Linked DNA regions of Homo sapiens: regions 1, 2, 3 and 4 are each linked to region 5. Evidence: fine-mapped expression QTL. A gene starts in region 5. Each other region holds a variant in brackets. All regions are shown on one strand. Distances are from middle to middle. Region 1 overlaps STXBP5-AS1 (STXBP5 antisense RNA 1). Region 2 has its middle 220 kb from the start of ADGB. Region 3 overlaps STXBP5-AS1 (STXBP5 antisense RNA 1). Region 4 overlaps STXBP5-AS1 (STXBP5 antisense RNA 1). Region 5 holds the start of STXBP5-AS1 (STXBP5 antisense RNA 1).

Region 1 (5,107 bases), 300 kb before region 5:
CAGTGTTCATGTAGTGGACACTTATTGTTATTTAGGTGAAAAACCTGGAAAGGCAGGAAGAAAATATTTACTCCGAGGAATATTGGTTAGTCATTAAAAAAATGTCTGAAGTACAGACAATTTGGAAAATTTACTGGTAGCTCTCCTCTCCACGAGATGGCACTCATTGTCTTCCTTCCCTTTTATTTAAAGTTTCAATGCATTCATATTTAAGAGTTTGAATATACCTATATGCACATACATATGCACATGTATGCATAGTATAGCTATGTAAATGTGTATACACACATACACATGCATATACATGTGTGTGTATATCTTAGGCTTTATAATTTACCTAGATCATTCATATTCTTTTAACCATTCAGTTGCATTTTTGACAAAACTGTCATTTACTTGGAGCCCTTGGGGACATTCAGACAGACAGTATGTAGGTTGCTGTGTTGGTAGGTGTAGGGGGAGAGTCGCCATCTTCATCTTCTTCACTCCCACCCCTTGTTCTGCTTTGCCAAAAGACAAAAATACAAAGTTGCCTTGGAGCCTGGGCATCTACCCACAATAGGCAAGAATAAAGCCAGTAACCACATAAACAGAGAATAAACAAGAATGTAATGGGATGAGCTATTTATAGAAAGGCTACCCATCTAGGTTGTTAAGGGACTGAGCAGCCTACTTATTTGAAAAGCTGGTAACATTTTTAAAAAAACATTGAGGTTCACTCCCCTCAGGAGGAATCTTGCTCCTGTTAGCATCCAAGGCCTGAGAACAACTGTTTTCTTTTGTTAGTAAGGGCTAATTTTAATTAAAACAAGATCTCCTTTTCTTGAGGTTCTCCCACCATGCATTCCAGTCTTGTGTTCTGGTTAGAATGCTTCATCAATAGCCGACTTCAGTGTGGATTTGGAGGTCTGAGACACAATTACAGTAACTGGAGAATCAATTAGGGCTTTGGATCATTATGCAGCAATTCTATTTTTATTACGTTAGCACTAAAGTGGGGGAAAGATCAGGAACTCAGACTCTATAGAAAGGCAGATCAACTAATCTATAGGGGAAATGCAAGTTTCTCAGCAACAACAACATCAACACACATTAGCAGGCTGGAAATTCAACTCAAATTGACCGTGTGGGCATTCAAACCAAGCGGGCACTTGGAAGACGGAGATGATAAAGGTCCTTAGAGGACTTACTCATTCAACATGCGTTAGACAATAGCAGCCAGTCCCTCCCGCCTTTGCAGGGGTGCCTTCCTCTTGAGGCCTCTTCCTCTCCAGAAGGAAGCGTTGCACTCCCTACTTGCATGTATTAGTTTCCCTCTATGTAAATCCCCGTAGCTCATATTTATAAAGCACTTTGTTGGTTTCACACAGGTGACATCTAAGAATCATCTTTGTTCTTCTCAGCCACAATGGGGAGGAGGTTGACATGTTCATCCTAATTTTACAGATAAGTTCTGAATAGGGGTTCATGATTTGTCCAAGGTCACAAACTATGTAGAATCAATGCCTAAAATAGAGAACTGGTCCCCAGACCTGTAGCCCACACTCCCTTTTACCTGATCACATAAAAAGCCTAAGATTGATATATCATAGGAAATAAACCTTTGTTTTCTTCTCTAGCATATGCAGGAGTATCGTAAGCCAAAGTTCCCAGTGGATATTTTACATGTGACACTTTCTACCCCTAAACATTGTTTGCTATAGCCTTCTTGAGGATGGAGTCATGACCTCAGAGAAAGGGCACAGTATATTTCATTTCTCCTAGTCCCCAGACTGGATTTTCATCACGGCTGGTGCCAGGTTCTTTTTTAGTACTGCACCGGGCGTATGAGAAAGAGCTTATTTTCATGACTAGCAAGGGCATCATTCAAAAGACAATTTGAACGTGGCCTTTTATGTATTTTTTTGCAAAGCTGTTATTTGGATAACCTTCAGGGAAATCCTTAAAACACTGAAAATGAAAACCATTAACAATGTGTTAGACACACATATACAGAAGAGCTGATAATGTTGAGTGCATGTGTATATTCTGTATCCGTGTGTGTGTGTGTGTGTGTGTGTGTGTGTGTGTGTGTTGAGGGAAATAAGAGATTTGTTCTCTGGGAAATAGCTGATCCAGAAACTGTCATTAATTCATAGGCCAAAAAGCCAAACTCCTATTTTGCAGCCCTTTCCCCATGGACTTAAGGAGTCTGAGGATTAAAAAAAAAAAAAAAAGTCTGAGGTATAAATACGATCATAAAGAGACATTCAAATTTGCTTTCTTCAAAGATTTTGCTCTGAGCTACCCACGACTGCCTGAGACATGTCAGATCTTCAAGAAGTGGCTAGCTCTACTCTGAGAAGCTTTCTGTTTCTGCTTGCTACCCAGGCAACCAAAATGTCAGTGTGCACATGTGCATGCGTGCATATAAATATATACACATCTCTCACC[A/G]TCTTATTCTTCACGTGCTACCTGTCTGCGTATATGTGTTTATATACATGTATGCGTATGTCTGTGTCACATGTACATTTAGAGGTGTTTTTGCTATTTGAATTTTTGCTTCTTTTTATTTTTGAAGACCAATGGAAAAGTGTTTGAAGACAGCAGATTACATTAAAAAATCAGTTTCACCGACTGGCTCTCAGATACTGGGTACATGTATGCACACACACACCTCTTCTACCCCCTCTGATTAATAGATGCTTCCTCTTAAGTCCTTTAAAAGAGGCATTCTTAGGCACATTTCTCTGCCAAAATGTAGTGGATTCCTCTTTGAAGCTGTGACCCTGTTGATTTTGTTCACTGCCAAATTTCACATCATGAAAAAAATAGCTTAATATTGGAGTGATTAACTTTCATGGAGAGCTGACAGAATTGAGTTCTTCAAAACCTAAACTCTGCCAATTTTGATGTCCCTAATTTATTCCAACAACCATTTAAGTCTAAATGCTTCCATTTTAATCACATTAACAGTATATTACAAAGAGACTGAACACCCAGAGGACTCCAGTTGCAAAATGAATTTGGCTCTTCCTTGTCCTCTTTATCTTTAGAATGATCAAATAGCTGCTGGCAAAAATGTTCAGCTAGAGTCAGCCCTCTGGCAATTTCCCATTGAGTCCCTCTGCTTCCTTAGCCAGAGGCCTGAACCTTGGCACTTGCCCAGACATCACAGAGGAAATAAACATACCTATTATCCAAGCAACCACAAAGATGCCTATCTGACCATTGCTGGCATTAGGTTTACCTGGACAGCTGCATTTGACTGGGGCTAAAGAGAGGCAGCTTTGTGAAACTAATCCACATCAATTCCTATCAACCTGGAGGCCTGATTGGCACCACGATCTAACCAGGGAGGCTGCAGCAGTGGCCCTGGGGAAACTGTGTGTTCCTGGTACCCCTTCTGGGTCTCACCAGTTGATAAAGTATCAGGCCTTCAGTGGGGCCAGTGCAGAGATTTGTTTATACCAAGGCTGAGCCATTGCCAGTTTGCCCATTCCTCTGGTACTGTACTCACATAAAGGTGCAGGAAAGCTGAATATTTAATGCAGGTATTTTATTTGAAACCAAGTGCTCCTGTTCTCCAGGGTCTACTTTCTGCCACCAGCCTACATCCTAGGAAATAGAATAAACATTTTTCTGTACTGCATAAGCCAAGCTATTTTCATATTTAGTTTCCCAACAGCCATCAACTGCATATGTGTGCAGACCCTGAAAACTCAAATACCTCCTTACTGTTTTGGCAGTGTTACATGGTGGTTATAAGCTAGGGTGTTCCTGTCAGAGAGACTGTGCTAACCTCTCAGCTCTGTCACTCATGGTATAACTTGCAGCAAGTCATTTCTGCTCTCTGAGATTGTTTTCTCAACTACTAACATGGGTAAAAGAATTGTATCTACTTCACACAGTGCTGCTTTGAGAAACAAGTGAGGTAATGCACAAAATTAAGAATCTGGTCTATAGTAAGTGCTAAATTATGCACTTCATGTAAGTGTATTTTATATATATATATATATATATATATATATATATAAAGTGTTTAACCAGTGTTATTGATATAGGAATATTACAAATATTTTCCACTTTTTAATTGCTTGAATTCAAGATTGCTACTCAGTAACAATACAGAAAAAGAGATGAGGAGGTTACAAGTTATTTCAAGCTTGAGATACGACTTCTTTAGAGGTTTTTGTTATTACTATTGAGCTTTATTGGATTAGAAGATGCTAGCTTCCAGAATTTCTATTACGCTATGGGCTCAGGGACTGCAATATGTTGGAAGAAAAGCTGGGGATTGTCTTAAAGTTGCATTTACATACTAAGCCCACTCATTTTCCTTAGGTTATGTGATCGTTTAAGGTAGCTCTGTGATGACAGGCACTGATGGAGATACAAGGATGCCATCTCTTGGTATCTTCACATTTACATCCCTCCTAGTCTACCCCTGGGTGTTCCATGTCATCCTTATTCTGGCAATTTCATCTCCTCTGGCCATGAACAATTAAGGATATTTTTAAAAACTTATTTTACAAAGTCCCATATTTCCACTTAAAAATCTTTGAAATAAATACATTATGAAAACAGAATTAAACACTTAAACACAGGTTATTTTTGTCCTCTTTGTTAACCCAAGGCAGTATCTTCTAAAGCCAGGGCTCTGTTGATAACTTTGGTTGGTTTCATGACAACTTCTATAGTTAGAATCCCATGTTGAAAGATGAACTGAATGAGACAAATATGAGGTAATTTTCCTCAATCAGACAATAAAAGTGATGGGAAAACAATATATTTTTTAAAGTTTAACTTTTATTTATCAACAAATACTCTTTTTTTCTTTTGAAACAGAATCTTGCTCTGTCACCCAGGCTGGAGTGCAGTGGCACAATCTTGGCTCACTGCAACTTCCACCTCCCAGGTTCAAGTGATTCTCCTGCCTCAGCCTCCTGAGTAGCTGGGACTACAGGCGTGTGCTACCACGCCCAGCTAATTTTTTGTATTTTTAGTAGAGATGAGGTTTCATCATGTTAGCCAGGATGGTCTCGAGCTCCTGACTTCGTGATCCGCCCGCCTCAACCTCCCAAAGTCCTGGGATTACAGGCGTAAGCCACCATGCCTGGCCAATCAA
Region 2 (5,107 bases), 390 kb before region 5:
GAAGCAAGGAGCCAGCAAGTCTAGACACATTCCAGAGGACATTATGTCAGACATGCAAGCCCTGCCTCAGTTTTTGTCCCAACACTCAGCTTTTTCCTAACACTTGTTGCCTAGGCGGGAGTGCAATGGCGCAATCTCAGCTCACTGCAACCTCCACCTCCTGAGTTCAAGTGATTCTCTTGCCTCAGACTCCTGAGTAGCTGGGATTAGGGGTGTGGCTACCACGCCTGGCTAATTTTGTATTTTTAGTAGAGACGGGGGTTTCACTAGGTCGACCAGGCTGGTATTGAACGCCTGACCTCAGGTGATCCACCCACCTCGGCCTCCTAAAATGCTGGGATTACAGGCTGGAGCCATGGCACCCGGCCAATTTCTGTAGAGACAGGGTTTCGCCATGTTTCCCAGGTTGTTCTCAAACTCCTGAGTTCAAGAGATCCATCCATGTCAGCTTGCTTCCCAAAATGCTGGAATTACAGGCATAAACCACCATGCCTAGCTTAAAAATATTTAATACTCCCATATATGGTCGACTAATTTTGGACAAGGATGCCAAAAATACACATGATGAAAGAAAATCGTTTCAAAAATGATGTTGGAAAAACTAAATATCCACATGCAAAAGAATAAAATAGGAACATTGCCCTATGCTGTATAAAAAAATTAAATAGATTAAAGATTTAAATGTAACATTGGAACTCATAAAACTCTTAGAAGATTGCCTACAAAAAAATCTCCTTGACATTGGTCTTGGCAATTTCTTTTGGAGATGACACCAAAAGCACAGGGAACAAAAGCAAACATAAACAAGTAGGACTACATAAAAATAAAAAGCTACTGCGCGACAAAGGAAACAACAAAATGAAAAGACAATCTATAGAATGGGAGAAAATACTTGTAAACTGTATATCTGATAAGGGGCTAATATTTAAAATATATTAAACTCATGTAACTCAATAGCAAAAAAAGCAAATAACCTGGTTTTAAAATGGGCAAAGGACTTGAATAAACACCAATCCAAAGAAGACACAGGAATGACCAACAGGTATATGCAAAGGTACTCAGCATCATTAACCATTAGAGAAATGCAAATCAAAACAACAATGAGGTATCACCTCACACCTGTTAAGATGGCTTTTATAAAGACAAGAGATAAGTGTTGGGGAGGGTGTGGAGAAAGGGAACCCTGTACACACTGTGGTGAGAATGTAAATTGCAATAGCCATTACAGAAAACAGTATGGAAGTTTCTCAAAAAATTAAAACTAGAGCTACCATATGATCTAGCAATCCCACTCCTGGGTATATATTAAAGGAAACGAAATCAGTATGTCTATGAGAGGTCTGCAACCCTCTGTTCATGGCAGCATTATTTACAATAGTGATATGGAAACAGCCTAAGTGTCCATCAATTGATGAATGAATAATGAAAATGTGGTATATATATATATAATGGAATATAATTGAACCATAAAATAGAAGGAAATCCTGCCATTTGCAACAACATAGATGAACCTGTAGGGCATTATGCTAAGTGAAATATGCCAGAAACTGAAAGAAAAATAATGCATAATCTCACTCACATGTGGAATTGTGAAAGTTGAACTCATAGAAGCAAAGTGTAGGACAGTGGTTACCAGAGACTTAGGGGTGAGAGAAATGGGGAGATGTTGGTCAAAGAGTACAAACATTTAGTTATAAGCTGACAAATTGTGTATCTCAGGCACAGAACGGATGGTGCCATCAGAATCAATAGTAGTAATTAAATTGAATATATTAATCATTATTCAGTGTATACATATATCAAACCATCATGTGGTATACTTTGAAAATATACAATGTTTATTTTTCAAAAAATTTTTTAAGTTTACATGAAAAAGTTAATATTTTATACACCTCCCCAGTTGTATATGTAATGTTACTTAATAAATGCAAATGTGCATTTTTACATTATTCTTTGCCTACTCTTAGCTTCACAACCTTATGACCCCAGCTCCCAAAGTACATACATAGAAACAACCTATTTTGAATGTTTCCATATTTTTCATTCATCTCATATGCTCACACCTCAATATTTTATATTATATCCTGGTTTGTTTTACAAAATGGCATTCTTTAAAGCATAATACAATGTGTCTTGCTTTTTCTCACCAAACAACACAGAATCTCTTGAAGTCACTGTTAATTCTTTTTAATTGTTATGAAATATTCCATGGTACAAATATACCATAATTTATTCATAAATTTATGAATTTTATATATACATATATGTGTCTGTGTGTATATATATATTCAGGTAGTGTGTGTATATATATATTCAGGATATTCAAGTACTAACATTAATATTATATATTCTTTAAGTTAGATAAAAATTCATCTGCAAACAATTTGTCATTATAATTTAAATGATGTATTTTTGATCAATTACTTTCTTTCAGATATTTTTTGCTATTATTTGTTTGATAGTTTTCACTTGCTTTCTTTTACTTTTCTTGCTGTGCCTTTTTTTTTTTTTTTTTTTTTTTTTGAGATGGGGTCTCCCTCTGTCTCCCAGGCTGGAGTGCAATGGTGTGATCTCAGCTCACTGCAACCTCCACCTCCCAGGTTCAAGTGATTTTCCTGCCTCAGCCTCCTGAGTAGCTGGGATTACAGGTGTGTGCCACCACGCCTGGCTAATTTTTTTTTTTTTTTTTTTTTTTAGAGACAGGGTTTCACCATGTTGGTCAGGCTGATCTCGAACTCCTGACCTCATGATCCGCCTGCCTTGGCCTCCCAAAGTGCTGGGATTACAGATGTGAGCCACCGTGCCCAGCCTGCTGTGTTTTTTAAACTATTACTCTTTAAGCTTTTTCTATTTCTGATTTTTGCTATTTTTCCAAAGCTCTGATAGTTTTTTTGTAGCTTATTTTGAATCATTATGTTACATTTTTCTTCTGATCAAAGCATACTTCTCTGGGATGTTTTCATTTTCTATTATTTGTTTCATTTTATCTCATCTTTAATAACAGATTTTCCCCCATTATTTAAGAGATTGAGTTTTATAAACTATTAGAAGCAGGTTC[A/C]TATAAATGACAAAGAATCTAAAGGAACTCTCCCAGCTTTATGGATGGAGGATGCCCCACAATGAGAGACTGAGGCAAGAGTTTCATCAATGTCTCGAGATTTGTTAAGCTTGAGGGGGTGCCCAAAAAAAAAAAAAAACAAAAAAACACGAGTCACAGAAACATCTGTGCTTGTGTTCTCTGAAGGGGTTTTCAGGAAGTTCAATGTTTATACATTTCTTTAAAGGGGGGAAGGCATGTAGGAAGAGGCAGGTACGTGGTGAGGCAAATGGTTACATTTTTGTGAGATTTTAATCAGTGCCCATGAAATGCACATTTTATATCAGATAAGGTGAACATTCCAAGAACAAGGGAGTAAAGGAAGAATCAACCATGCAGACATCTCAGGTTAGGTGGAGGAATGATTGATCCCTTCTTGTATGTTCTGCACCTGGGAAGACAAACTTGTTATCGACATTGTCAGTGTGAATTCTAACAGACTTTAGTTTTCGGTACTAGACTTGGATTGCAGATCTAAAGTTGTAATTGACATGCCCTTGTTTTATGGGAACGTACACATTTTTGAAAGGTTTCCAGGCCAGCAAAGAACTCACCTAGGAACAGCTTGGACAGTGAAGCTTTTTGCCTTTCTGTGGGGTCTGACAAATGTACAATGCTTTGACACAAGGTTGTGAAGAACAAGCTATTCATTTGGGAAAAGAATGGCAGTGTTGCATGACTCAGCCTCCAGGCTCTCCAGGCTTATCTTTCCCTTTGGCGTAATGAGTTTGGGGGATCTGAGATTTTTATTTTCCTTTAGAGTTGTAATCATCAAAATATGGCCTGATTTCCCATTTCTCTGTCTGTCAGAGAAAATTCTGCTTTATGACAGATTTTGAGTTTTTTGCCTCTAAGCCTCTGTTTCCTAGATTTCTGTGGACCTTGGTTTTCAAGACAGTTCTATCTTTAGATATTTTTTCTCTTGCGGTAATCTGAATCCGTGACCCTTTGGTCTCAGCATTCTTTCTCCCCTTTCGCCAGCATTTTTCTCAGTTTGCTTACTTCTTCAAACGGTGTTCTCCTACTTTAAGGCAAGTTCTTCTGGATATTTCTTAGAGTTTCAAGTGGAATTTCATGGATATTAGGGTCCGTTGGTGGTTTTTGTGTTTTCACCTGTGCCAACCATACAGGTCTAAATGCTCAGATAATCCTGCTGATTGTCTTTATTTGGGCCACAACTACAGAGGCAGGATTTTCTTTTTCTCGGTCGCTTTGCAAGCCAGGGACCCCCAGCCAGTGATGCCCTACCTGGGCCGCTCTCGGGGATGATACTGTGCCCCAGCTCACCTGTGTTATAGCTTGTACTTGTGTTCTGTGGTTCCCAAGATCTTCTACTGCGCCCAAGAAGAATGAAGATGCACTGTACATTGAAGTGTGAGGAGGGTGGAAAAGAATTTTATTGAACGATGAAACAGGTTTTAGCGGAGAGGGGATATAGGGGTGGTTCCCCTATCTGAGGGCAGGAAAATCCCTCCCCTGTTGCTGGCTCTGGGGCCTCTTATGGACTCAGAATGGAGAGTGTGTGCTGATTGGTTTGTGAGTATGCAAAAAAGATTAAAGCGAAGACATCACTCAAATGTGGGCATGACAGTGTAGAAAACCAATTAGGAAAGGGTAGGTATATGTAAAATAGGTGAAGGGTGGGGATCAATCAGAGGAAAGCATGGAGGATTTAACCTGTAGCTTGGCTTTCAGGCTTTAAACTGTCTTTGGCTTCGAGGTGGGGTTTCACCAGGGGCCCGCCCCTATCTGCCTAGGCATTTGGCTGCCTCCTGCCACTCTCAATACCACTCTTGTTTATGGGAATTTCTTGTCATCTAATTTTGCTAGCAATTTATCTGAGTTTTGTTTTTTGTGGGGGGTGTGTGTGTACTTGCTTTGCCATCACAATTGTATTTATAGTTTTCAGGAGTAGTTTTGGGGAAAAGCAAAAATATGACACATCATTATCCTGCCACTAGAAGTGTGTTACTTATTTATAATTTTATTTGCTTATAATCAGACTACACG
Region 3 (5,107 bases), 290 kb before region 5:
CAGCACTGCGAGGAAGAAAGATCACAGTCCTCAGAGTCAGTAGACATCAGTTTTAATTCTGCCTATGCATAGTTAATGTTTGACCTTGAACAAGCAGCAACCACTCTAACCATAGTTCTTCCAACCGTAAAATCAAAGGCAGGCCTTGATGATTTCTTTAGTGTCTCATATAGTCATTGGATTGTCCTGAGGGAGCTAAACTATGCATCCTACCATCAAACAGTAACCAGTTACTACTCATGACCTCCTGTGCATAGGCTGAAATTACTTGTGCTTAATTAAGCTACTCCTCAGGAAACAGAGCTCTAAAGCTCTACATTCTGAAGATATTGTTAAACATTTTCCTTTCATGGAATAACCAGAGATAGAAATTCAAAAGATGGGATTTCCAAGTCATGGTGACATTTTGTGTCATATCACGGGGTGATCTTGTGAAAGAAGTGGTTGGCTGTCAGTTCACCTCTCTGGACATGCTTGGGCAACAACACACAACTATTGGAGGCACGAGTGAATAGATTCTGAAGCCATCCAATAGAAGCAAGTTGTTAAGTGGTTATTTCTCAGGCTGGTTTAAATCTACTAAATTCCCATTAAACCACTATAATAAAGGTTTCTAGTATGAACTTGGAGATAAAGGTGTGCCAGGGCCATGGTCCAAGTAAAGCATTTAAATGGCCAAGTGTGATGGCCAACACAAAATCCAGAATATCAAGTCAGCAATGCCTGTCTGCTGGGAGAGAAACTAAATAGTTATAGTGGTCTGAGGAGCAAACATAAATAAATGTACCGACTCTGAAGACCTTGGCACAGACAGTACAATAATGAGTTGTTTTGACAAGTCTAAAAAATGTTTGTCTCTACTCTTTCCTATGACTTGGCAACTATTTTACCTTGTATCGATTTGTTCCTCATTTCCCTTGCAACAAAATTTACCCTCTTGCTTTAAATATGATATTCTTTCCACAAAGACTATTTCTAGCACCTATACCTTCTTCCTAAATGAGTTACTGCATTTTCTTTCTTGCCCTCTGCTAATCCTCCCTCCACTGAAAAGCCAAAACAAAAGGGAAAAATTTCACCAGCTCCAAATAAAATACTGTATATTTTCCCATTATGCAAGGAGTGAAGGCAAAATGGGTGTGGAGTTCTCTGTGGACAGCTGCTTCCCTGTACAAGATGAATACTACCAGTGCTCCTTTAGACTTTAAGTCTTTGTCTCAAAGGCTTTGTCTTCAAGCCTGTCTTGTGACTGGAGTGTTTGTTAATAACTGCTCCTCCTGCACCTCCATGTCTCTGTGTGTCCACACATCCCTGCCTACTGCTTCCCATCCCTGATTCTAGACACCGGTTTAGCTACAGGAGACAAGAATCACTTCCAAAGGAAGATGTTGAATTCAGGCAACAGAATGGTAAGAAAAAAGGCCCATGTCATTGTTGTTGTTTCATTCTTAGCACACACTTTCATTTCTAATGTTTAAATTCTATGCAGTGTTTCCTGATTAGGAGTTCTGTTCCTTTTCAAGGATTCTCAGGGATCCTTTTTTTAAGTTGATTCTCAGGGATAGAGCACGTTACCTTCACCACAGTAAGTTCCTCACAGGTGTAGAGTCCCGTTTGAATAAAAACATGTGTCTTCTCAGACAAAATGTGTGTCCTCCCTGTGGCTTGCACAGCAGGGTGCCATGTCCCTCTCTGCTTTTCCCTCTCCCCTGGAGGGTCATCTTTCTTATGTGGAAATCATGATTTTTGAGAAGCTGAAGCTGAGTTGAACTATTTTCCCCTGATTCTTATCAAGGCTTAAACTATATTAAAGGAGCTACCATTTTAAAAGATCTACTCATTATACTTCTTTTAGTATCATAGTTTTAATACTTGTCATATGTCCTAATCCAAATCCTATGCTTTACAAATAATAAAAATAAGGCCTAAAGGTATAGTGACTTACCCAAGTTTACAGAGCTAATTTGTGGAGGACAGTGGAGAGTAGCCCAGGTTCTGATTTTCTGGTTTTGCATTCTGATTTTACATTCACCGCTATACAAATTTTACATTCACCACCACACAAATGGAAGAATTTTGTTATACTTCCAATAGATACATATGTGAAGATCACACATACCCATTGAATATGTTTCAATCAATCTTGATGTTGGGAATTCTTTCATGTTTGGACCAGGATGGTACTTCCATCAGAGCAGAGTATTCCGCCAAGCTAGGAGGATCTCTTCAT[CCT/C]CTAGACAGAAAAGACAGCTGACCTCAGCCCAACATTCTACTTCATAAAAGATGTTCATAGTCATGATGTCATTCTATCCTCACTAATCATAAGAGGTTGATAATATTGATAGTTTTACCTTATAGACAAGGACCCCAAGCTTCCTCAGTAGAAATCTAGCCATTAGTTCATGTCACATGACTTCACCTCCAGATAGACCTTGTTCTAGCTTGGAATCCATCTGAAGTGCATTCTAAACTAGGGGAAGCGTCCATACTTTCTTAGCTGGAGTATCCTGAGGGAGAAGAGCTCTAAAGAATAAGAAGAGCAAGGACACAACCTGACATCATGTTGCTGCCCCACCCGGCACACCCAGCCACACATATGTGCCCACAAGTTTTGATAAGAGGGTGCCTTCACGGTCCCCAAATCCTTAACATTTATGATGATGAATTCTGCATTGGGGTAGCCCATTTCTGAAATTTCAATTTGGACTTGAGTGAAAACAGATTTCCTATTAAATTCTTTTTGACAGAAACATCTCATAAACAAACAAGCATATAAACAAATATTTCTAATTTCCTCTTGGTGAATTATTTAAAGAATGCACATAAATCATGGCAATGTTTTTCCTTTGGATGACTTTTATTTATAGTTTTCTGTCTTTAAGAAAAATTTCAATAATTCATAATCACATTTTATAAAGTTGCCTTGCTGCTAAGAGCCAAGATAAAGATACATATGATTTAGCTTCCTAATATTTTATTTCTCTCTTCACCCATAAGAGGTCTGGTTTCCCAAGAGAGCTGAGCTCTGTATCAGAGGGTATTCTAATAATTTCATTGATGTATACAAAATGTATTTCCTTTTCCTAAAATGAAAAAGGAAAGTAGCAAAGGCAGTTTTCATTATACAGATTCATAGTGGTGCACCACAGTGGTCTGTGCTCATCCTGAGAGGAGGCCTGACGTATGGCTGCCAGATTTGAATATAAATGTAAACTCCTATTGCTCCACAGAATCCCATGCAGAAATAAGCTTACACCCAATGCATGGAGAAAATCAATAGTATATTATTAAAAGAGCATTCTGACTTTGTGTAGAGCCATTAAAATTAATCCCATCAGCATTAAGTCATGGGCCCTAGAGAATCACCCAGGAGAGCCATGGAATGATGGCAACCCACACAGATTAGGAAGAGAAGATGACACAGGCAGAACAGAGAAGGAAGTGTGGTCTGGCCCAAGCATTGCCCATGTCCCTTCCTGGCTGCCCTTCTTGTGAACACCTGGGGGTTCTGCATCTACACGTTCCTGGTGCCCAATCCTGAACACCACCCTGTCTCTGCTCCAGCCCTCCCTGTCTCCTGGAAGTGCTGCTTCTGAAGGCAACTGCTCTAAACCTTCTGCTTCTTTAGACAGCTGTCTGATAAAACAAAGCTTTCTGCAGGGTTCATGACTGACAATAGGGTCAAATGATCAATTGCCCCTGATCACAGACTTCCTGTGAGATGCAACACCGTAGCCCAAAGTCTTCACCCAAAGTCACGATAACTAGGAGAGAGTTTTTGACTGATACAGCCTTGTTCATTGTGGGAGAGCATGAAAGCCCTGAAAAGCCAGGAGATCTGGGTTAAAGTCCTGCCTCTACCGTCAAGTAACTCCCCTCACTCTGGGTAAGTCACTTGACCTGCCTGTGCCTTAGTTTTCTCATCTGATAAGTGAAGATTTAAAGGGTGTTTTGTGAGAGCTTAGTAAGATAATGAAAAGGTACATGCAAAGCAACACGGTGCTTTAAAAATGCAGCTATGACTTCATTTAGACATTTTGTGGAACAAACACACAGAGAGATGTTGTAACACAAGGATGTAGGAAAGACAAAAGACAGACTTAATTTATTAATCATTTCCTGAGTGTTTATTGCAAGGTGGGCATTGTTTTATGCACACGAGGTGTAGGAGCGAAAAGACAGATTGTCAATTATCTACATTACTGCTAGCATTACAGGAGTTTAAAATTATCTTTCATCTCTTGTATATTTATTGTGCATGGCATAAATCAGCCACACTAGTATCTGCATACTAGTATTGCTTTCAAACACCAATGATAGAAAATGTCCAAAGCAAATCAGAGTAAATTAATTTTTTTGCATTAATTTCTGTTTCTTTCAAATACAAAGATTCATATATAACTACTATCAAAGGCGTTTTTTGCCTTTACAGATGGTCAACATTTGTTAAAGAAGTCAGGAAAACGCAGACATGCAGGGATTAGGACATCCTTGCGTCATGGGTCTCTCAGCCTTTTCCTTAACCAGGGGTGGCTGCGCTGCACTTGAGGAGGAGGCAAGGGGCAGTCAGGCAGCCTGGAGTTCTCCTGCCCACTCTGCTGGCTCTGCTGGCTCCCCAGCCTACTTCAGCCCCAGCCTCGCAAATTCCAAACTGCTGATTCATGCTCATGATGTGAGCCTAATGACCGCGAACACGCTCTTGTTTTTCTTCTTCAGGCACATTTTCTTGGTAACCAGGCGGATGATATGCTAATGCAAGCTGGCAGACTTGATCTCAAACTACAAAAATACGCTCTGCCACGTGGAGGGGACAAAGGAGGAAAGAGACTTCAAGGCTATCCTTTTGACTCGGGTTTCCATTTTTGTCGAGAAGCACACAGCAAGTGCTCAACAAGGAGATTTGGTATTCAGAGGAGACCCACAGTGACCATTAGGATTTTAAACCACCATGAGCAGTAATTCTTCTCATTTAAAATAAATGTCCTCTAAGCTTTTTTAGTAACACACTTTATGAGACTCCGCTAGTTTCTCGTGCTGTTTCAGACAGCTCTGGGTAAGCAGGAGATGCTGAATCCAGTGAGGCAGAAAAGTCAGAATTTGCCTTTTC
Region 4 (5,107 bases), 340 kb before region 5:
AGGATGGTCTCGATCTCCGGACCTCGTGATCCGGCCGCCTTGGCCTCCCAGAGTGCTGGGATTACAGGCGTGAGCCACTGCAGCCGGCCAGTCAATCTTATTTCGTCATTACCCTCACCCCTGCTTTCTCCTCCCTGGATTGTTTTGAAGCAAATCCCACATACCATACAATGTCAGCCGTACCTTCTCATATGAACCTGGGAGCAAATTCTCCAAATGACAAAATCAATGGAAGACATTTGGGGGGCCTTGCCCTTATAGTGGGTGCTGGAGTTACAAAGGTGAATACAATTGTGCCACGTTTCGGTCTTTTTGGAAAACACTACCCCTCATGTGTCTGTAAAAATTGACTCTTCTTTTTGTGCTAACACTTCCTTTTTTGGCCAAAATCTTTCTAAAAATAGACAGCAAGCCCCCTCCTGCTGCCTGTTTCTTAAACTTTCCTCTCATGAAGGTGAGCTAGGATTGTACAATTACAATGCTTTGAGAATTTTGTTCCTTTTGAGCTGTCTTTACTTTTCAAAGCCTCTAGTCATGCTATTGGACCTATCTTTTCCTCTAATAATTAAAAAAGTCTCTATATTGTGTTATTCTCTGTCTTTTCATCCCAGTTTACTATGATTAACGTGGTTACCATCTCCCCAGGTTCTTCCCGTTCATTTACCTTCACCATTTCATTTCACCTTGCATTTCTTCCCAGTTGCTCAGACTTCACTTCACAGTAGTAATTTTCTTTTTCTTTTTTTGTACCTTCTGAAAGGGCAGTCTAATGACAAAGTCAGTCGATAATTGCTCAGAAGATCTGTATTCACCAGAAAGAGTCTTTCTGCTGATATTCAGAAGATCAAATTTTAAGCTCAGCATGAACCAAGATCCAGTTACACTGCACACACACAAACGGAAAAACCACCATAGTATGTATGAGGGAAAGATCAGACCATACAATCATTATGTGATAATGTATTAATAATAGATGGTATAATGAACCAAAAATTAGCTTGGCAACACTCCCAGGTACTTTTCATAAAATAATTTCCATAACCTGCTTTGCCTATGAAGAAGGGAACACATTATCCCACAATTACTTGGGGGTGGAATGATTAGCGTGGGTCCAGGACGCGGCCCGGGGACTCTGTGGTTGGCCTTACACCTTTCCAGACAACGTCCTTGGCCTCTCCCCTACTACAGCATGTGTAGCTGTGTGTGGGATGGAGGCTAAAAGCCTGGTTATGCTCCACAGAATGAATTCTTATGTCCCTGAGCTCTTCTCAGAAAACATGCAGGGAGTCTCTGCCAGCTGCAGAAGTTCAGCTCCTAGGAAGAGGGGATGAATTTCTGTGTTTTATTTCAATGGTGTAGCATGAGTGTGCAGAGCCAACAGTATGATAACTGGTGGTCCTCACGTATGTCTTGGCTACATCATCCTGTGACATGGTCCTGAGGCTGACCAGGGGATGGAGCTGACCGTCAGAGCCCCAAATTTAGCATGAGGCATAGCCAATATATGGGACAAAGGTCAAAATTTATGTCACAAAAGGTAACCTGGGACTTGCCTGTCACTGCAGATCCTGCACTCTACAACATAGCAGTGTTTAGTGCCTGTTTAGGTTGTAAGGGTCATCAGGTCTTCTAAGGAGTCACAGCATATATAGCTATATTTTCTGAATATAAATCTATGTGTTAAACGAAATGACACAGGACAGGTCATGGAGAGCATAGAAGAACTGTGTTTGGAGACTCATAAGTGCTCTGGTCTGGGCATCAGAAACTTGATACAGTTTGCATCACATCCAGGAGGAAGGATCATTCAGGCATTTGGATTTCGTTGCATTGCTGACATCTGTCAGAAACCCAGCTAACAGCCATTGGCATGAACAGCACAGTTAAAATGAAATGGATCTATTCCATGAGAAGCTCAAAACTGTAGCTGGTTTACAAAGTGTTTTTGTCTAGCCACATGCATCATCAATTTAATATTTCAATGTTTCAAGTTTATTTCCATGAATGAGATTTCATTTACCCCCACACACTCACTTAACCTATTGAGTGGTTCTAAGTTATTAACAAATACAGTCGCCAAAAAGGTGATTATTTTAGAAAGAACAGAGAAAACCTATCAGTTACATCTTTATTTATCTTAGACTTTTAGGCAGCGCCTCTAGAAAGTGCTGAGCAGAAGCTTAATATGGGAGTGAAGAAAACCAACTTGTTTATCTACCTCTAAGTCACAAAGGCTGTTCTGCACACAGCTATGAACTTCTGGGAATAGAAAAGCCACTTAGCAAGTTAGCAGGTGAGGTCAGAGTAGACGCATATTCTCTGGGCTCATAAATTAGCCAAGGAAGAGACGACACCCTAAATCATCTTTATGGGGCCTAAAC[T/C]GTAGAGTATCAAAAGCAAATGCATATTTAGATGTAACATATTTGCCAAAATAATTGGACTTTTATTACATTTCCCCTGTGACCTTAATGACCTTGCATATATTTATCTTCCAACTAGACAACATATTTGTGGATACGTGTTACTCACACATAGGTTTCTGTTAACACTCAAACTGAACCACTCAAAAGGGGTGTCATTTGTGAAGTCCAGGGAAAATCATCATAAAGGCAGCTCTTAACACCTAGGTCACAGGGAGGCTTATTTGCCTAAAAGAAATGCTCATGTTACAAAGGGGTCCTTTCTGCCATTTTTGTTTGAAAACAGACTCCTCTAAAATATGCCGATATCTGTAGAAAAGGAGCAAGAAGAGTTCCCCTCCAGAGGCTGCTCCCTGGAGAGTCACAGAGATCCTCGCATTTCTCCCATAGTATTCTTCCCAGGCTGCCCATTTCAGCGCAGCATTGACCAACACGTTTCAAGTCCATAAGCACTTCCAAATGTTGAATTAGAGAATCTCATAATATATCCACAGATTAATCGAACTAATGATATTCATAGGTAGCCAGGATGGGTCACGTTTTTCAGCTTGTAGTTAAATAAAATCACATCTCTTTCTCTTGTATGCCTCCCCTCTCAATTAATTTTTCAGTTCCCACAGTTTGGTTTTTAGAAAAATATCCAGTATAACCTATTCAGGTTCCCTCCTACTGCCTTGTCCAAGAACACTATGGACTTATTCATTCCAAAGGGTTCATTCTGTACAAGAACACTAGGCAGCCGGTTGAAGAGAGAAAAAACTGGAAAGTCTGGTCAGTGTACTAGTTACTGATGCTGACACCAGGCTCTACTGCTAGAAACTGGATCTGCAGAATCTGAACCAGCCCTCCCTGGCTAACACTCAAAGGCTTTTGGTTGCACCAAAGTCACCCGGGCAATTGACCACATTCCTTCTTGTAGGTTTCTCTTTGGAAGACTTGGTTTCCATTCTTGCCAACGGATCTTTAAGTCATCCAGATACAAACTATCCTAACTTCAAACACAAAGTTCAGTCCTCGGTTCCTTGCTTCCCTGAAGCCCCAAGGATTCCACACCATTTATTTATTTAATTAATTAATTAATTTATTTATTTATTTATTTATTTTTTAGGGCACAGAGAGGGAAGCCTTCAAGTAGCAGAAGGCCCTGGTCTATTCTTTTCCCAGAACAGTTGAGTGTCTCTTCAACCTACCTAGGTATCACCAAGCTTTGGGTCACCCTATGCAGAATCAAGAATCCCCACTCCAAGAAACCTCATCATAGAAGACAGCACACTTGGAAAGGATCCTACTCCACTCAATGCCCAGTGACACCTGCCATTCTTTTGCTTTGCACAGATTTCTTAAAGTGAAGGGTGGAAATATCTCTGGATCATGTCTTTGCTCTAGTCTCTGTTATTGTGTTGTAATCTGAGAAAAATCATTTATTTTCTCCATTAAGAGTAGACTAGGAATTTTCTAACTTACCAGTTTAGTAGATCAGAAGTTTTTAAAGCTTTTCTTTAGCCTCAGAATCCTTTTTATTCCCTACATTTTACAAGTATGAACTTTTACTATCATATTCTCAGGTGTTCCTGAGCCATAATCTTACTTTCTGAAAGCAAATTTTATTTATTTTTTAAATGTTATGTTAGGTTCAGGGGTGCATGTGCAGGTTTGTTATATAGGTAAACTTGTGTCACAGGCGTTTGTTGCACAGATTATTTTTTCACCCAGATACTAAACCCAGTACCCAACAGTTATTTTTTTCTGCTCCTCTCCCTCCGCCCATCCCTCACCCTCAAGTAGGTCCCAGTGTCTGTTGTTCCCTTCTTTGTGTCCCTGTGAGTTCTCACCATTTAGCTCCCACTTATAAATGAGAACATGCAATATTTGGTTTTCTGTTCCTGCATTAGTTTGCTAAGGATGATGGCCTTCAGCTCCATCCATGCTCCTGTAAAGGACGTGATCTCATTCTTCCTGAAGCCAAATTTTAACATATGACACAGAACCCCCAATTTTTCTTAGGTAGAGAACTTAATCTAGTCAATCCCATTTAAACCTAATAAATTTTGTTGATGTCTCTATCATGCTGGGTTGAAAAATCAAGCACACTGAAGGCTATTTGCCATTTTCTACTTCCTCACTGAGAGAGGAATTTTATAAAATTAGAGGCAGTATCTCAGAGGAGAGGTAGGACGCTTTATGATTTTATATTTGTATCCCTATTCTAGCAAATGTTCTGGAGTTCGTTTATAGAACCAGCTTCCCCTCTGCACACAGAGGGTCGTGCTCAACCCACCCTTCCAGTTCCCATCTCATCTGTTGCGACTTTGAATGCTTCTTCTAGAAGACCAATTGCCGAGGCCTGTAGGCTCCACTGGCCCAAGGGTAAAGAGACATGGGCCTGCCCCATTCACTCTCTGTATTGCTTTGGCCATTCATCTAATCTCTTTGAGTTTTGGTTTCCTCGCTAGTAAAATAAAGAAATAAGATGGTCTCAAATCTTCTCCCACTTTTAGAATTATACATCTGATGAATTATGAACACTCAGATTCTTGGATTCTTCCAAGTCCTTTAAAGCAAACCCTATTACTCCTTGCAAGTAAATATTAGACAACCTCAACCCCTATCAATTCTGCAATTTACATGCAGTTCAAGTAGCTGAAGCATACTGGGCTTGCTGCCACTTACTCTAACCTGTTACAGTG
Region 5 (5,107 bases):
CTTTACCTCAAGGACCCTGATAGAATAGGAAACTGACATTTTTGAGTGTCTACAGAGTACTAAGCAATGCAGTACAAACTTTTCATATTCTTTCTTTTCCCCCTCCAGTTCATGCTCATAAATTTCTAAGAAGGTGGTATTAATCTCATTTTAAACCTGAGGAATCTGATCCCTAGAAAAATTTAAAATTTGCCCAAGATTACACATATTACCATGGCCTGGACTGAAGTTCATGGCTGGCTGACAACAAAGCCTATATTTTCCCACTACACCACAAAGCCTCTCAACAAGAAGTTGTCTTTTTTTTCTAGAAAGTTTTATAATCCAATGATGAAAAATTATCCAATAGATTTATTTTAGACCTAGGTAAGTAAAAAGGCAGATCATACAATTCTATGGGGTTGTGATCTGTCTGTTTTGCAATTTCCCCCTGTGGAATCACATGTACTTTTAAAAAGCTCTCAAGGTAATTCTGAGGCTCTCTTCCCCATTGTCTTCCAATGGTCTTTGCCTCCTGTTCGCTAGGTCTGCTCCTCCTTATCCGGCATGATCTATGGTGGGCGTCACCATGTCCAAGCCTTCCTGGCCAGTTAAGTGGCCCTCTGCCGTCCTCCTTCATTATTCCATCATTGGACTCATCACATCGTTTTACAATTACTATTTATGTTAAAAGTCGTCTCCGTTAGACCGTAGTGAGCTTGCTGAAAGCAAGGATTGCATTTTCGTGTCTTTAGTACCTAGCACACCGCCTGACAACAAAATGTTAGAGAACTAAATTAATAAAAAATTCAGAGCCACTTGGAAATAGTTTAGGAATGTCCTCACATTTGTTTTCTTGGTCGTTGCACCCAGCGAATCAACTAATTCAATAAATATTAAACGACAAATCAAAATTTTGTAGGTTCCAAATGCAAGACATCGTCCTGGGATGCGGAAGCTGCAGAGTGGACTACATTTCCCGAAATCCCTGGGCCCAGTCGTAGTTGGTTCGCTGACTGCTTTTGAATGCTGGTTAACTCAACCAATAGGGTGACGAGAATTTCCCTAAAGGAGAGGGAGCCGACCTCACAAAGAAGAGGGCGGGTGCTTCTGACAGGTTTGGAACTTAAAAAAACCCTTTGTGGCGGTTCCGTGGCTTTTCCGCAGACCAGAGCGCGCGAGGAGTCATTCGCTAGGAACCTGTCCCCCTCTCCCCGAATTAGGATTAGTCTTCCTGCACTTCCTTCCTTCCTTACGTCTTTCCTATTTCCACATCCTTCCTAATCAAGTACCTGTGCTTCCGTCCACCTGTCCTGTTGAACGCACTCTCCGGGGGGTTTCCCCGGCACAATCTCTTGTCTGTCTTTTCCAACTTGAGCCAGGCATTTGTCTCCAAGCATTCACGCGAGATGGGCAGTGCGGCCTCGGAAAGATCTGAGCAAAAACTTCATCCTATCCCCCTTTCCCCGTTCTAGAGTGAAGCTCCCAGGGCATTACTGAGTGGCTCATCAGCGTCAGGGCAGATTGAAGGTTCTGAAAAATAGTGGCAGCGCGGCGTTTCCTGCCACCCGCGCTCCTCCCCGGCGAGGGGCTGGGTGCGGGGTAGTGTCATCGGCCCGGGCTGACACCGGCCCTGGAACCGTTCCCCGCTGGCAGCCTCTTCCATCCCAGCAGCTAACTGCTAAGACCAGACACGTTCCACCAACAGTAACAGCTGTAGGAAAGAACCCGTTTTTTCCCGTCTAGGTTTCTCTCCTTTTCCTAGTACCTAAGTCCATCATCCTCCTGCCACTGACATATCGTTGTCTAGACGCTCTTTTTCAAAACTCAAATCCAATCAAACAAAAACAACGCCCGTCAATAAAGCAAGAAAAATAATACTGCAGCCAGCGGCCAGGAGCGTGCACCCCATTAACGGCGAGAAAGCATCAACCCCTGCTGTAATGACTGAATTGGAAAGAAAGGTTTCCTGCTGCTTGTTAGTCGTCAACATTTTTACTATGCCAGCTGCAAGAGAAGCAGCTGCATACTCTGGCAACTCGACTGGGGTGGGAGAAATTTAGCCAGCGTCTGGGATTTTCGCAGAAGATAATTTAAGCCCCAGCTTCGCTCGGGCTGGGGGGCTGGGGGCCTGCTGGGCCAGGGTGGGGGAACCGGGCTGCGGCGCGCATGCGCAGGTACCGCAGCCCGGCTCCTGGGAGGCCCTGCTGCCGCCACCGCCGCGGCCCGCGCTGTAACCGCGGCTGCCGCTGCTGCTCCGGGCGGGCGTTGGTGCCGTGTGCCGAGGCGCCCTGTCAGGCGATGGGGAGCGGCTGGGCGGGGAGAGCCGACGGCCGCGGCGGCGCCTGAGGAACGCAGCCGGGCTCGGGAGCGGCGAGGGCGGGCCGGTCCAGCGGCGGAGGAGCGAGGCGGGGCGAGGCAGGCGGCGCGGGGACCCACACCAGGCGCCTTGTGTGCGAGGCCGAGCGGCGGCCGCGGACAGAGAGCCGGCGACCCCCGGCAGGAGGAGAAGGAGCCGGAGGACGCGCCGAGGGACTGCGGGGCCGGGGCGGGCGAGCAGCGGCGCGGCCGCGGGCCATGGACGCAGCGGCGACGGTGGCGGCGCCGGGGGCGAGCCGGGGCGGCGGCGCGGCGCAGAGTCCGCCCGCGGCCAGGTGAGGCTGGGCTGAGCGGGCTCGGGCGCCGCCGCCACTGCTGCTGCTGCTGCTGCCGGGCCGCGGAGCGAGGCGGCGGCGGCGGCGGCTGAATCGGCACCACAGCAGCCGCGCCAAGCAGCGGCGGCCTCGGAGGAAGAGGGGTCGCCGCCCAGGTTTCTTGCGGCCGCCGCTCTTGTCGTCGCAGTATTTCCTGTTCGGATTATCTTTTGCTTCCCCCCAGCTGCCTCCTTACCCTCACACTCCCACTCCTCCGTTTCCGCGGTCGAAGCTGCCTTCGGCCCCGGGTGGTCTCCCCCGCCCGGGGACCCCCTGTGCCTCCCCTCCCGGGCTGCGGGGGAGCCCCTCCGAGACCATGAGGAAATTCAACATCAGGAAGGTGCTGGACGGCCTGACCGCCGGCTCGTCCTCGGCGTCGCAGCAGCAACAGCAGCAGCATCCGCCTGGGAACCGGGAGCCGGAGATCCAGGAAACGCTCCAGTCCGAGCACTTTCAGCTCTGCAAGGTGAACGGAGCGCGCAGCCCCGCGACACCGTCATTGAAAAATTGGGGTTGTTTTAAGGGGGCTACTCGGGCTTTACATGGGAATGCAAGGGAAGAGAACGCCAATAATAATAATAATAACTCTAATAAAAGGCTCGCTCCTCCCTTGGCAAACGTTTCTTCGGTGGGTTGTTTTGGAGATTGATACCTTACTCCTTTTCATTGATTTTTCTCTCTCCCCTTTGCACATGCAGCAATCAGTTCAAGGTTGCTTCAAACTATTATCCGACCTTTAATCGTATTCTGACACTGCCAGTAATAACCTGGAAGCTTTTATATTCAAGCGTTTTAATATGATTCACCAACTTCGAAGTTTCCTTTGGAAACGGTGTCTAATGAATGTTGTTTATCAAAAAGCCAAACCTGTTCTACCACACCTTTGCTCATCACTTTTCCCTTAAAATGTGGTGTAAGTGGCTTACGATATGAAATCACAGGGTTCTTTTTATCATTATGTTTGTTAAAAAGTACTGAGATTTTTGCCTGTTAATGGCACGATAATTGCCATAGCGTTCTGTAATTCAGAAAGAATGATGCAGCGAATTAAGTCACCAGCTGCTTAATGAGAAACACAAACTTGCCTCGGTTTTAATACCTGCCTTTCTCATAAATAGCCATGTATTTGTATGTCAGAGTTAATTAAAAGTGTGCATATATATATATATATATATATATATAGGTCTAATGCCCTAAAATGATTATGGCCTTAATAGTAAATTGCAAAAATGTATGTTGTACTCATCTTCATTCTGTTACAAGTGTAAAATGTTGGGATAGAGGTTTGATTATTGCTCTACTGAATGCTTGACTAAAGTAATTATATGACAGCTTTTCCTTAGAAGTACTTGCGTTAGCATCCAAATAAAGTAATGATGAAATGAATACTGCCAAAATAAAGTATGAATTGCATTTAATGGGTTTACAGAATTTTGGACCATTGCAAACTTTAGTCATCTGGTGTCGGATGTAGTAGTATAGAATATTAATAAAAGATTTTCTTCTATGGAATACCAGTATTATGGAAAAGCGAAATTAAAGTATATCACTGGACTAGATTTTTGTTTGTTTCAGGTTCTATGTGAATAACTTTGTTAATGTAGGTTTCACTTATTTTTTCAAAAGCAGTAAGTGCATGTGTATGTGTTTTGCATCAGTGGTAGTGGTTCTAAATTCTAACGCCTCTATTGACTTTCTATTTTAAAATTTCGCTTGCTGCCTTGGTTGCTGTGATGTCACTTGCCCATCCCTAGACTGTTCGCCATGGATTTCCCTATCAACCCTCAGCCCTGGCCTTTGATCCTGTACAGAAGATCCTGGCAGTGGGAACTCAGACTGGTGCTTTAAGGCTGTATCCTTTCTTTAATTTTATTTTTTAACTTCTACTTTGTTCTCCCCAGTCCTTCTGTGTTGCTGATTAGTTCCAAAGAAAGTTTTTATTTTCCTGTTGGTGTGATTAGATATATACTATGAGAAATCATGTGTTGGCTTTTCCCTTGATTATAATTCAGCTTATATACTGCTGTGATGTTTCTCAGCTCCTAGTTTATAGTAGCTAAACATATATCCAAATAGAGGTCTAAAGTTTTTTTATGATAACTATTTTATTTGTAAGGAGATAGAAGTTTCTAAGGAAAAATATATCTGCTTCTATACTATTGGTGTGATGAATGAGGTATGTTAAGGATGAGGTTTAAAGACAATTACTTTTAAAAATATTATGCATGGTAGATATTGAACTTATGACCTATTCTAATAAATTAGAGATTGGATTTCAATCTGAATTTGGTTGTTTTTGGCATGTCCGTGTAGAAAAACAATTAGCAGAAGTGTAGCAAATTAATTTTCTATGAATAGTTATAAATGGTTAATATTTCTACCAGTTTTTAGAGCGTTTTCTTGAAAAATGCATGGGGATAAATTTTTTCTCTTGA

What was found. PIP is the estimated chance that this variant, and not a neighbour inherited with it, causes the effect.
Region 1: its variant is the best candidate, but not a certain one, in a credible set for the expression of STXBP5-AS1 in whole blood (INTERVAL, PIP 0.89).
Region 2: its variant is the best candidate, but not a certain one, in a credible set for the expression of STXBP5-AS1 in whole blood (INTERVAL, PIP 0.69).
Region 3: its variant is the best candidate, but not a certain one, in a credible set for the expression of STXBP5-AS1 in esophagus mucosa (GTEx, PIP 0.88).
Region 4: its variant is the best candidate, but not a certain one, in a credible set for the expression of STXBP5-AS1 in whole blood (INTERVAL, PIP 0.72).

The regions. Positions count from the first base shown.
Region 1 is chr6:146,902,420-146,907,526 of GRCh38, forward strand. All of the region lies in intron 7 of STXBP5-AS1 (STXBP5 antisense RNA 1), which reads right to left. Among named protein-coding and RNA genes, the nearest start is that of LUADT1, 250 kb to the right of the region's middle. The variant A/G (reference allele first, on the strand shown) is at 2,434.
Region 2 is chr6:146,816,082-146,821,188 of GRCh38, forward strand. No RefSeq gene overlaps it. Among named protein-coding and RNA genes, the nearest start is that of ADGB, 220 kb to the left of the region's middle. The variant A/C (reference allele first, on the strand shown) is at 3,059.
Region 3 is chr6:146,909,433-146,914,539 of GRCh38, forward strand. The region is part of intron 7 of STXBP5-AS1 (STXBP5 antisense RNA 1); the gene reads right to left. Among named protein-coding and RNA genes, the nearest start is that of LUADT1, 250 kb to the right of the region's middle. The variant CCT/C (reference allele first, on the strand shown) is at 2,231.
Region 4 is chr6:146,863,720-146,868,826 of GRCh38, forward strand. The region is part of intron 7 of STXBP5-AS1 (STXBP5 antisense RNA 1); the gene reads right to left. Among named protein-coding and RNA genes, the nearest start is that of ADGB, 270 kb to the left of the region's middle. The variant T/C (reference allele first, on the strand shown) is at 2,382.
Region 5 is chr6:147,201,545-147,206,651 of GRCh38, forward strand. It overlaps STXBP5-AS1 (STXBP5 antisense RNA 1), which reads right to left and starts at 3,070. Exons shown (of 11, transcript NR_034115.1): 1 at 2,869-3,070. STXBP5 (syntaxin binding protein 5) reads left to right here and starts at 2,873. Exons shown (of 28, transcript NM_001127715.4): 1 at 2,873-3,138; 2 at 4,427-4,524. The coding sequence starts at 2,989. It overlaps LOC124901422 (a long non-coding RNA gene), which reads right to left and starts at 2,027. Exons shown (of 2, transcript XR_007059803.1): 1 at 1,272-2,027; 2 at 332-749. RefSeq lists silencers at 2,056-2,475, 2,506-2,555, 2,576-2,655, 2,826-3,015.